Linked DNA regions of Homo sapiens: regions 1 and 3 are each linked to region 2. The links come from fine-mapping of genetic effects on gene expression. A gene starts in region 2. Each other region holds a variant in brackets. All regions are shown on one strand. Distances are between the middles of the regions.

Region 1 (4,216 bases), 74 kb before region 2:
AAAAAGGTGCTATGAGGGAGAATACCTGGGGGTCCCTCCTCCTCTGGGGGATTGGGGGCTGCTCCAAGGAGAACCTGCTCCTTTGAATGTGAGATGCCAGGGCTTGGCCTTCCCTGGCTTCAACCACACTCATCCCAAAGTTAACACCTCTGTGTGCCAACTATCCCTGTGGCTAGAGGCGTCTGGCCTCTCTTCTCCCTGGTGGGAAATTGTGTCCATCTCCCAGGGCCTAAGTTGAGACCCTTTTCTGCTGTGGAGCTGCCTTTGCTGTTCCATTCCACACAGCTGCAGCCATTTCAACTCCAGGAGGCTACTTTGAACCCAATTTTTACATTTCCCCTGCTATTTTCTAGTAATGTCATATATGTTACTCTGCTTTCTGCAAATGCGAGGTGAACTGAGGAAGGGGTTCCCCGTTGGAGGGTGTCAGTGCCTCCGGGTTTATCCAGTCACTCAACTCATGTATTGGGTTCCTGCTATGCACCAGCCCAACAGTGTGTCCAGGACTACAGCGGTGAGCCTGTGTGGGAGGAAATGGGGAAGCAGCCAGGAAGGCTGGGGAGCCATCGTCTCAGCCCGGGGCCACAGCCGCTGCACCCCACCCCCAACAGCTAGGAAGGCTGGGGAGCCATCGTTTCAGCCCGGGGCCACAGCCGCTGCGCCCCTCCACAGTGGAGGATCTGCTCCAGGGCCCTGCACTCGCACAGCAGTTTCCTGTGCTCGCATGCTAGTGTGGCTCAAGAACTTTCAGATTGCACACTCATACTTTACTCAGCTCTGTCAGGATCCCTGGGTCTGCACAGAATGTCAGTCCTGACTTGTGAAAAGCAGGCTAGGGGGATGGAGCCTCAGCATGCCTAAGCCAGGCCTCCTGGGGGAGCTGGGGCTGGCTCCTGCGGCCTCCTGGGCTCACCTTGCTGCCTTGTCTTGCCTCAGCCTCTCCCTCTGCCCACACCTCGAGGTGCCAGCCGAGGTTCCTAGAGGCAGGAGTGGCCCAGAGGCGATCCGAAACCCCACGGACGCTTACTTGGTGGCACAGCCTCCTCTGAGAGTTTCCACAAGCAAGGACCCTGGTGTGTTCCACCACCGACCCTGAGGCCTGTGAGGAAACCCAGGGCTGGACTCCAGGCTGCTCAGTGTGGGAGAGTCTCAGAGAACTCCAGAGGGTGACACTCACACCCGACAAGGAGACATTGCCCTGTGTATGTGTTGGGGGCTGGGGGGGAGTTGGGCTGTCAGCGGAGATGCCCTTGGGTGGCACCCGTCCATATGGGCTTTTCTTTTCAGAAGTCTGCAGAGCTGGGTCTGGAAGCTAGGGCAGCAACATGATTTAGCAACACAGAAAATAATATTTCTGCCAAGAGCCATACCACCCTGAACATGCCCCATCTCAGCAGATCTCAGAAGCTCAGCAGGGTCTGGCCTGGTTAGTACCTTGATGGGAGACTGAGACTATCAGGTGCTATAGGCTTAAAAAAAAATTCCAGTTTCTCCCTGCTCTAAACCCCTGCTCTTCATTTCCTGACCATTGCCTAAGGACCCATTCAGAGGACTGGAAACCTCTGAATGAGTCTCAGCCTCTCCCTTGCTTGCTCCTAAGGAGAGCTGGGTGTTAGCCAGCCAAGTCTGGGGTGCAGAAACTGTTGAGAGGACGAAGACAGGCAGGGTGGGCGGAGACAGGAAGGGAAGGAGATTCCTGCTTCTTGGATCAGCTTCTGAGCCCTCTTTTGTTTTGAAGAATTCAGGTAATGGGTAAATAGGGAGAAAACTTTACAGTCCATGTAAAATGCTG[A/G]TAGAGCACAGACAGAAGATGAAAATAGGAAAGACTCAAAAGCTGGAAGTGATGTGAATGTTTGCCATTTCAAGTGAAAGGCTACCGAGTTTTGGAAGAATAAGAAAATAAATAAAACATAATTTTAAGAAGTGTTGCTCTGGTTTTTAAATTGAATCCCTTTTAGCATTCTTCCAGACACCTGAGTGAAAACTGAAACTAACCATAGATGCCTTTTGTTTTAGCCTGGTGCTGCTTTGACAGTGACTCTGTGTATAGCCTGGACCACATGAAGCCCAATTTATATTTCGGTTACACACACACAGGTGCACGCACACACACTATAGAAATACATCTCAGAAATGTACTCTTAAGGGGACAACTGAAATGATTCATTGCACCATGGAAATGTATTCGTTCATCTGTTAAGCAGCCGTGTCTATCTCACTGATGGATTAAGGTCCAGTTTCATTCTGTATGCTGACTCCTTCATTCCCTCCTCCTTGGCAAAGCATTTTACTTCAGCTAGCTTCAAAGGGTGTCACACCCAGGGTAAAGAAATAAGTCTCCTCTCTGCTTTAAATTTCACAATGAACCCTGCTATAGAAATCATAAAAAGAGTTGCTTTTCTCATCTGCTGCAGCCAGCCCCAAAGTACATCCAGCCATATCAAATTAAAGCTGCTTACCAGAGACCATGTCAGCTCTGGGTGAAAGTAGTGCAGAAGAAGCATTGCTGAACTTCCTGGAACTTGTGGACAGAACATCTGCCAGGGCAGCTGGGAGCTGAAGGACCAAGAAAATTAAAACCCAGTGACAAGATGAATGAGGATCCCTTGCTCCCATGTTGTGTCTAATTACCCAGAGGAAAAGCCAACAATGGGTACTGTAAATTGTCCTTGGAAAACAATCCTGGGAGTGGTTCTGCCCTTCTGTGTCCCCAGCCAAGCTTCCCCACCCACCCCACCCCCAGGCTGGCTCCACCAGCCTCCTTCTAAGGAGCACTTCAAGTGTGCTCCATCCTGCTCCACACCCCCGGGTGCCACTTCCTCTGCTTTTCCTCTCCCTAAATGAGGCCTCACCCCCTTCCTGTTTTCTGGGTCACTAATGACTTCAACTCAGGGAAGGGAAATGTTATCTTGAGCCCTTTCCTTTGTCTTCACCTTCACTATTTGGCTTAGCTGTAGATCTAACGATACATGAGGGGAAGAACCACTTTGGGTGCTTGAAAATGGGGTACAAGGAACCAGTGACTGACTCTGGTGCTTGTTGGGCGGTTCCACCAGGTGCTGGGACCCTTGTCTTCAAGTCCAGCTTGCACCGGTGGCAAGGGGCAGAAATGATGTCCCAGGGCAAAGTACCAGAATAAAAATCACGTGCACACACAGGCTTTGGTCAGTTGTAAGGAGACAGCAGCTTAATAGCTTCCAGCCTTCAATACAAAAATAAAGCTCTGTGAAAAATATAATGAATAAAGTGTGATTCCTATTTTTAGGTTACAATTCTTCTTTAAAACACAAATATGGCCAATGGCAAATGTTGGACACCCATGCAATGTGCTTGTCTTAAATTCTTGGATGCCATGTTTATGTACTTATCCCAAAATGTCAGCACCAGCTCAATGTATGTTTTCTAAAATTGCTTCTGTGTCTTTTAGAGGATTACAATACCTGATTTCTTATCCCATGAAACACAGCTGGGGGTAGCGATCAGAGAAGGGCTCTGGTCCAGTGGCTTGATGTCCTCCATTGAGGAGGGGATGGAGATGGACCCTCCCTCGTCGTGATGCATGGAAGCAAGGTGAATCCCTGCACGGCTGGGTTAGAGGTATTCAAAAGGCCCATAGGAGCACTTGATCTTTTCTCTACTGCTCTCTTGACCTGAGCTTTCCTCCTCAGCATGGAGAAATGGGCTGGAAGAAGTTTCTAAGGGCAAGATGAGGCCATAAAGGACTCCTCCTTCCTGAATCTCTTTGGATCAGCACAAGTGCCTTTCCCCCAGAGCAAATATTTTAGCATATTCTTAAAAGAGAAGATGCTCCCGGATCAGTGGAGGTGCAAGTCAGCAGGGTAGAAGGTGCTTTTCTGGGCATCAGCTGTGATTTTTTGACTATGAATAATGAAAGACACACAATGCAAACCACTTTGCTTTCTCTGAATCTCATTTAATCTGCTTGACGATACTAGGAGGAAGCTGGGAGTTAATCTCCCCACATTTTTGAGACTGAGTCTCAGAGAAGTGAAATGACTTGCCCAAATTAACACTCACTTAGTAAATATTTATGGATTATCTACTGAGTACCAAGCACTTGTTTCAGCCATGGGTTTATGGAGATAAAAAGAAGAGGGGTCCCTTGTCCTCCTGGCACCTACAGCCTGCACCCAGGGCTGCCTGAGAATGGGAAGATGTGAGCTGCTAATCACAGAGTGGAACTGGGAGCAAAAAT
Region 2 (4,216 bases):
GCTTCTATGGAGAGTTCCCAAAATGTCTCAAATATCTTTGCTAAAATGCAAGGACTTAAGGCACATTCTTAGGAGGTATCCAGCTGGAGTCAGAGATGCCTCCTTGTCCCTTGGGGAGCCAGCGAGCTCCTAGCCCCCGGGACAACTCAACATCTCCATGGAGGCCACTGTGGTGGTCGCTGGTGCCGGGTCCACAGGCGTTCACTGTGTTCTCCACCGTGGCGCTTCTTCCCCTGGGGCCCTCACGGTCAGTGCAGAGCACCAAAGAGTTGCCGCTGTGTAGAGAATTCTTATAATTGTGCATTGCATCCATTTTGAATCTAATTTGGACCCTCTCCTACCAGAAGCAGGGTTTATTGCTCTTGACACGGTGTCTAGGGCTCCACCCCCTCCCAGTTCCTCAATGCGGCCAACCCAGATATCTGCCTTGTACACCCACCTCCTGGTGACCATTTCCCTGTGGGACAGGCAGATACAGCCCATTTGATGGTCTCAGTGACTCCACACCCCACAGGGACTTCCCAGACATGCCGCCATGCCCACCTCTCAGCCACAGGGACCCCACGGAGCCCGTGTCTGTTTGCTCTAAACCCACCAGTGAGAAGTCCCCTTGGGAAACCTGCTTGGGAAACGTCCTGGACCCCAATAAAGGCTTAGGACCCAGGTCTCTCTCTCTCCCTTCACCCCCCTCCAGGTGAGTGTTTGTGACCCAGACAGCTCCCCACTTTTTGCTGGCCCCGTGGGGTGCACTGCCCTCTCCCTGGGATCTGTAAGTGACACGGTGCTTGTGTTGCTTCCTGTGTCTTCTTGTGCTGCCTCCTGCATCTCCCCTGACCCACACCCCAACCCAACTCTCCTCCCATCAGGGATCTCTTAGGAAGTGGCTGTCTTGATAGGAATAAACTGGACATGGGTCAGACGAGAGCCACAAGGGTGTCTGTCCATAGAAACAAGTTTTATGTGAGAGAGACCCCTGGTCACTGGGCAGGGCTAGAATTTATAGTCAGTCTCTCAAAGTGAGAGATACAGCCTGCTACCAATGACAGGGGACTTGGAGAGCAGTGGAGCCTCTCCCTCAGCTGAGATGGTGCTGAGGTGTGGTCCCCTCAGGCCCCCAGAGTTTCCTGGCACTGGCTCCAGCAGCCCAGGGTCACCTTCTCAGCAAGTCATCATGGGTTGGCTTCCTCCTTGTCTGTTTCACTTCCCCTCCCACATAAACTAGTCTCCCCAAATCCTGTCTCAGGGTCCCCTCCTGGGGGATCCCAACCAATGAGCAAAGGTCTGTGGCTGCAGGAAAAGCACACTGTGAGTCCCTGGCTTTTGCCGAGTCGCGGTGTCGCGGGAGGGCCTGCCCGGGCTTCGATTCCCGCTCCCTGCCCAGATTTCCGGCCCTTGCTAGGAATCCTGAGCCGGGGGAAGTGAGCCTGCAAGCCCTGCGCCACGAGGCCGGACACATTTTCATTTTCTTTCTGATGCTTTTTGTGACCCTGACACCTCACAATGCAATATTTCCACTATGAAACCCCCAGAACTGCCAAATTTCACCCAATTTGGATTAACATTATCGAGGAGCTTGGCATTATGTTGAAAACCCAGACATTCCCACGACCCGTATCCTATTTAAAAAATGCCTGTCTATTTAAGGTTCACGATGGGAGGATAAAAGAAAAAAGGCTCCCAAAGTCAACAGAGAACATGAGCTAGGCAAAAGGAAAGTCCAGTTTGCTTCTAAAAAAGGCTGAAAATTATAACCATCCATGGCCTTGTGTCTTAAGTCTCAGAATTTTTTTTTTCTCTTTTGGTGGTTTGCAAACCAAAGTGGAATTTTATTATGGGTTACTAAGGGAGCTTCCTCGAGTTCCTAGCCCCCAAAGCCCCTGCTCACTCCATGGCATGCCTCCGAGGCTCCTCATGCCATGAGAAAGAGAATGGAGCCAAAATCAAGCCGGCAGTATCTCGGGGCTGTAACGTCTTCCCCCCGTCGCTGTTTCCACAGTGCTGAGCCAGGGACCCGGCAGAGCTGCCTGACTCCTTTTATGAACAACAGCACCGTGATGAAGGCAGCAGGAGTCAGAGAACTATTCATTGCAGGAAGCCCCAACATCCGGTGAGAAATAAGAAGTACAACAGTACAGGATGCGCCTTGGGTCAGGGGGACGTGGAAAGCCCTCAGCCTTTGTGTCCTTCTCTGCGCCGGAGTGGCTGCAGCTCACCCCTCAGCTCCCCTTGGGGCCCAGCTGGGAGCCGAGATAGAAGCTCCTGTCGCCGCTGGGCTTCTCGCCTCCCGCAGAGGGCCACACAGAGACCGGGATGGCCACCTCCATGGGCCTGCTGCTGCTGCTGCTGCTGCTCCTGACCCAGCCCGGGGCGGGGACGGGAGCTGACACGGAGGCGGTGGTCTGCGTGGGGACCGCCTGCTACACGGCCCACTCGGGCAAGCTGAGCGCTGCCGAGGCCCAGAACCACTGCAACCAGAACGGGGGCAACCTGGCCACTGTGAAGAGCAAGGAGGAGGCCCAGCACGTCCAGCGAGTACTGGCCCAGCTCCTGAGGCGGGAGGCAGCCCTGACGGCGAGGATGAGCAAGTTCTGGATTGGGCTCCAGCGAGAGAAGGGCAAGTGCCTGGACCCTAGTCTGCCGCTGAAGGGCTTCAGCTGGGTGGGCGGGGGGGAGGACACGCCTTACTCTAACTGGCACAAGGAGCTCCGGAACTCGTGCATCTCCAAGCGCTGTGTGTCTCTGCTGCTGGACCTGTCCCAGCCGCTCCTTCCCAGCCGCCTCCCCAAGTGGTCTGAGGGCCCCTGTGGGAGCCCAGGCTCCCCCGGAAGTAACATTGAGGGCTTCGTGTGCAAGTTCAGCTTCAAAGGCATGTGCCGGCCTCTGGCCCTGGGGGGCCCAGGTCAGGTGACCTACACCACCCCCTTCCAGACCACCAGTTCCTCCTTGGAGGCTGTGCCCTTTGCCTCTGCGGCCAATGTAGCCTGTGGGGAAGGTGACAAGGACGAGACTCAGAGTCATTATTTCCTGTGCAAGGAGAAGGCCCCCGATGTGTTCGACTGGGGCAGCTCGGGCCCCCTCTGTGTCAGCCCCAAGTATGGCTGCAACTTCAACAATGGGGGCTGCCACCAGGACTGCTTTGAAGGGGGGGATGGCTCCTTCCTCTGCGGCTGCCGACCAGGATTCCGGCTGCTGGATGACCTGGTGACCTGTGCCTCTCGAAACCCTTGCAGCTCCAGCCCATGTCGTGGGGGGGCCACGTGCGTCCTGGGACCCCATGGGAAAAACTACACGTGCCGCTGCCCCCAAGGGTACCAGCTGGACTCGAGTCAGCTGGACTGTGTGGACGTGGATGAATGCCAGGACTCCCCCTGTGCCCAGGAGTGTGTCAACACCCCTGGGGGCTTCCGCTGCGAATGCTGGGTTGGCTATGAGCCGGGCGGTCCTGGAGAGGGGGCCTGTCAGGATGTGGATGAGTGTGCTCTGGGTCGCTCGCCTTGCGCCCAGGGCTGCACCAACACAGATGGCTCATTTCACTGCTCCTGTGAGGAGGGCTACGTCCTGGCCGGGGAGGACGGGACTCAGTGCCAGGACGTGGATGAGTGTGTGGGCCCGGGGGGCCCCCTCTGCGACAGCTTGTGCTTCAACACACAAGGGTCCTTCCACTGTGGCTGCCTGCCAGGCTGGGTGCTGGCCCCAAATGGGGTCTCTTGCACCATGGGGCCTGTGTCTCTGGGACCACCATCTGGGCCCCCCGATGAGGAGGACAAAGGAGAGAAAGAAGGGAGCACCGTGCCCCGTGCTGCAACAGCCAGTCCCACAAGGGGCCCCGAGGGCACCCCCAAGGCTACACCCACCACAAGTAGACCTTCGCTGTCATCTGACGCCCCCATCACATCTGCCCCACTCAAGATGCTGGCCCCCAGTGGGTCCCCAGGCGTCTGGAGGGAGCCCAGCATCCATCACGCCACAGCTGCCTCTGGCCCCCAGGAGCCTGCAGGTGGGGACTCCTCCGTGGCCACACAAAACAACGATGGCACTGACGGGCAAAAGCTGCTTTTATTCTACATCCTAGGCACCGTGGTGGCCATCCTACTCCTGCTGGCCCTGGCTCTGGGGCTACTGGTCTATCGCAAGCGGAGAGCGAAGAGGGAGGAGAAGAAGGAGAAGAAGCCCCAGAATGCGGCAGACAGTTACTCCTGGGTTCCAGAGCGAGCTG
Region 3 (4,216 bases), 27 kb before region 2:
ATAAAACCTCAAAAAGAGTAAGAAATCTAAAAGTCTAGATCAGTGTTTTACAGAACTCAGGTTTTCAGATGACTCCTTTGGGATAATCAGCTTTCTGCAGTTATGTTATGTATGGGACATTTTTGGGTGGCAATAAAGAAAAAGAGGTAGGGGTCAGGCCTATGGGACTGGGAGGCCCGCTACGCAACTCAGAATGGCTGGGACTTCTCGGAGCCCATGCTTCCATTTAGAGGGCCCAATAGAACCGTTTTCTTTGTGGCAGATAAAACCATGGCTAAGTGCAGTGGCTTACGCCTGTAACCCCCACACTTTGGGAGGCTGAGGTGAGAGGGTCATTTGAGGTCAGCAGTTCACAACCAGCCTGGCCAAAATGGTGAAACCCGTCTCTATTAAAAATACAAAAATTAGCTGGGCATGGTGGCAGGCACTTGTAATCCCAGCTACTCAGGAGGCTGAGGCAGGAGAATTGCGTGAACCTAGGAGACGGAGGTTGCAGTGAGCAGAGATCTCACCACTGCACCCAAGCCTGGGAGACAGAGCAAGACTCTGTCAAAAAAAGAAAAAAAGAAAAAAAAAAAAACCACACAAAAACAAAAAGGACCCAGAAGCAGTCCTTCAGGTTAAATGATACTTCCTTGTCATATGAAGGCCGCATGGGCCCAGTGCCCTGCTGGGCAAATGGAGTTTCCCAGTAATTCGGAATTGGGGGAACCTACACTGTGAGCCCCATGGCGCTCTGAAGGCTGAGACTTGGTGTTAGCCAGGAACTGTCCTTTTGTTGTTGTGTTACATCACTGTGTTAAATTGAACCATTCTGGTGTTCTAGGCTTGTTTTATCATATTTGTAAATGTTTCGGTTTAGTAGTTACAGGAGAGTTAGAGCGTATGGTAATGTTATCTGATCTGACTAAAGTACTATTTAAGGACAGCGGTGGGAAATATGGCCTATGAGAGCCCAAATGTTACAGGCTACAACTGAGACTCCAAAGAGAACCTGGCCTCTCAGACTCAGCAAATGGAATTCTTGGTTCAAGGGCTGGTTTGCCCAGCATGTGTCGGTGCCCACACTTGGAGCAACCTGCCAGCACCAGGATGGGTCCCACTGGAGGAAGCAGCAGTCGATGCTCTAATGCGGTGGGAAGAACAAGGAGCAATTCTGAAAACAGAAGTGTCAAAGTTACCATCCCTTCTCTTGGTTCCTGAGAATCCTTGGCCAGAAGACACAAACACCTGCCTTCCTTGCTCCAGGAACCAGAGAGGTGGTGTAGACCTCAGGAAGTCTGCTCAAGGACAAGAGGCAGTCAGCGGCTTCCAGAACAGCTTCTAGATTGTGGGGGAGTGGGGAAGGGCTGGTCTGGGAGCAGGAAGAAGCTCAGTTCTGCTGCTGGCTGGCTGTGTGCCCACAGACAAGGAAGTCTCTTTCACTGTCCAAGCCTGAGTTTCTTTAAAATAAAATGTAAAGTTAAAATAAAATGTAAGAATGCAGTGGCACCCTAGATGTAAACTGTGTGTGCCTCGTCACAGAGCAGGTGCAGAGCAAATGCCAATTCCTTCCCAGTGCCCAGCCCACCCCAGGCCCACGGGGGGCTGCCTGGCCTCTGTGCCCAGCCTGAGACTACACTGAACTCAGGGGCTGTCATTTCCCCTCAAGGTTGCTCTGCTCGCAAATCATCTGATTTCATCAGGACAGTGAATGGTGGAGGGAGGTTGAGGCAGCAGGGTAAGTAAGTATCTGTGAGACGACCAACAGCTATTCTGGACTTCGTAAAAATGTAAAGCTCTCTGAAGGACATAGCATAACAGGCACAGCTTTCCTCAACTAGTTGAAGTGGTTCTTGGCTTTCCTGGTCTAATGCAACTCAC[G/A]GGACAAATGGCTGGTGGTCCTCTATCCTCCCTGCCCTCTGAGTCATTCTCCAGCCTGGCTCGGGCCTGTGCACCAGGTCTTGTGCCTGCTGGGGCCTCTAAAGCCATCCATGTCTCCAGGTCTCTGCAACAGCAGCAGGATTCCAGTGGCAAGCTGATAGGAGAAATTTAACAGGGCTTTTCCTGTCTACCTTGACTGGATTGTTCTTATTTTTATTTGCAGAAACCAGAGTAAGGCAGCCCATCCATCAATCAATGCCTGCTGCTCCTTATGCCCCCATGGCAGGTATCAAACTCCTGCTGCATTCTGGGGCCTGACGAAGAGTTGCAGATGCATGTGGAATGGGCTGAACTCTGAACCCATGTGTTCATGTAGTACCTTTGCCACGTAGATGCATACTCCAGCTACTGCTCTAGGTACTAAGGATGGATTAGTCACACATCAGGCGAGCCTCTGCTCTTGTAGAGCTGTAAGGTGACCAGTGCAATGAAGGAAGATGGGGAGGTGAGGGAGGTAAGACCTGGGAATGTGGGGGAGGGGGCAAGTACCTGCAGAAGCTGAGTGTGTGAGCTATGAGGAGAACACCACAAGAAAGAGTATCCAGGCAGGGGGAGAGGTGAACTCACAGTTTCTGAAGTGGCCTGTGCTTAGCATATTCTAGAAAAGCCAGGGAGCTAGTAGGGCCAGGAAGGAGTGTTTTGTCTTATTTTGTTTTTCAACAAATGAATGAACACATGGGAACAGTGCATGCTGGCTAATTACCATGTAAACTATTCACCTGCTCTTGCTGGTAGGATGGTAATGCTTCCTGAACAGAGGTGTCCAGTCAGCCTGGCTCAGCATGCCCTGCCTACACAGGGATGATAAGCCATCACACAGCTTGTGGGTCTGAGCCATGCTGCACAGTTCCACCAGACACAGAAGTCGTGCCTCCAAGGACCTGGGCAAGGCCAAACTCCACCTGCAGGAACCACACAGCTGTTATAGCTGATGTCCTGGCTTCCTGTGCTGGAGGAGCTGTCTGGGTCTTCTGGATTTTGAAGCTGGAGACATCTGAGCTGTGGCATTTTGCTGTAGTTACTGCACTTCTTTGAGTATCTCATTAATTTCTAAAATGGGCATAGTAATAACTAGTAGCATGTAGAATTTTGGGGAGGAAAATCAGAACATGTAAGTGATACTGGCTGAATTGTGTCCCCAAAATTCATTTGTTGACCTTGTCACCTCAGCACCTCAGAACTTGACCTTAGTAGGAGAAAAGTCCTTTAAAGCAGTGAGTAAGGTAAGTGAGACCCTGGGGGCTAGCTGAAACCCTAATGCAATAGGACTATGTCCTTACGAGAAGAGGAGATGAGGACGCAGACACTCACAAAGGGAGGACTGTGTGCGGAGCAGGGAGGAGAGGGGCATCTGCAGGCCAGGGAGTGAGGCTCAGAGGAGCCGGGCCTACCCACACCTTGATCTTGAAACTGCAACCTCCGGAGCTGTGAGAAGACACATTTCTGCCTTTGCCCCTGCCTGTGGGGCTGCCAGAGCAGCCCAAACTGACTAAGTCAGCTGGTGAGGACCCCTGGGAATGCTCGCCTGTGAAATTCGGCCCACGGACTCCGGGGAGGCCCCAACTGTCTGTGGTGGCAGGTTTGGAGTGACCATGGGCTGGATGTCCTCACAGCTCCTCTTACGTTTTTAAAAAAAGTGACATTGATGTAGCTTCGAGGCTGATAGGGCCAGGGCCATTTCATTATTTTGGCTTAAATGTGTGTATTTGCCATTTTTTCACCCTGCCCCGAAGCCCCTTGCTGTGTGCCGGCCCATGGGGCGCATGTCTCTGGGGGCAGGGTGGGAGCTAGAAGTGGATTTCGACAGGTGCATCAGGCCCTGCCCTGTCGCCTCACCCTAGTGGCCCTGGGTCTCAGGGTCCTTATGTGTGAGCACAGGGCGATAACAACGCCTTCGAGAACCCAGCCAGTTCCCGCAGGATTCTAATGTGGTGATGGGGAGGGGGGCACTGATGCTCCTCTCCCATCTTTGGTTCGCCCCGAGCTCAGAGCTCAGCTCACAGCCTGTCCTCACTGACCATGAGTCCCTCAAGCATCAGCACTTCTCGGTCCTTAGCCTGAGCAGCAGCCCGTGCAGGGCAGCTGGGAGAGCCAGGGCATAAAAGCTTCAGCCACCCTCTGTGGTGAGGGGCAGGAGGCAGCTGCTGGCAGGTCAGCTCTTGGACGTTTCACACCTGTCCTTTCGAGACTGTGCTCCAGCTCCCAACAGAGCACCAGTCTCGGGAAGCACCTGCCCTGTCTCCTCTCCCTTCCCCATCTCCCTTCCCCTGACCCCACCTCCCAAGTTAACCAC

Which allele goes with the higher level. Alleles are on the strand shown, and positions count from the first base shown. SD is a standard deviation of normalised expression in the study named. Not every link is listed here.
With allele A in place of G in region 3, the expression in macrophages of the gene that starts at base 2,179 in region 2 is higher (moderate effect, 0.51 SD a copy in Nedelec 2016).

Evidence for each region. PIP is the estimated chance that this variant, and not a neighbour inherited with it, causes the effect. A credible set is the group of variants that fine-mapping cannot tell apart.
Region 1: its variant is the best candidate, but not a certain one, in a credible set for the expression of CD93 in whole blood (INTERVAL, PIP 0.56).
Region 3: its variant is the best candidate, but not a certain one, in a credible set for the expression of CD93 in macrophages (Nedelec 2016, PIP 0.77).

The regions. Positions count from the first base shown.
Region 1 is chr20:23,158,112-23,162,327 of GRCh38, reverse strand. LINC03125 (long intergenic non-protein coding RNA 3125) reads right to left here. Exons shown (of 6, transcript NR_199692.1): 2 at 2,460-2,556. It also overlaps the pseudogene RNA5SP478. Among named protein-coding and RNA genes, the nearest start is that of LINC03125, 12 kb to the right of the region's middle. RefSeq lists an enhancer at 427-476 and a silencer at 2,002-2,101. The variant A/G (reference allele first, on the strand shown) is at 1,793.
Region 2 is chr20:23,084,287-23,088,502 of GRCh38, reverse strand. CD93 (CD93 molecule) reads left to right here and starts at 2,179. Exons shown (of 2, transcript NM_012072.4): 1 at 2,179-4,216. The coding sequence starts at 2,311. RefSeq lists enhancers at 349-488, 2,016-2,195.
Region 3 is chr20:23,111,364-23,115,579 of GRCh38, reverse strand. No RefSeq gene overlaps it. Among named protein-coding and RNA genes, the nearest start is that of LINC00656, 19 kb to the left of the region's middle. The variant G/A (reference allele first, on the strand shown) is at 1,864.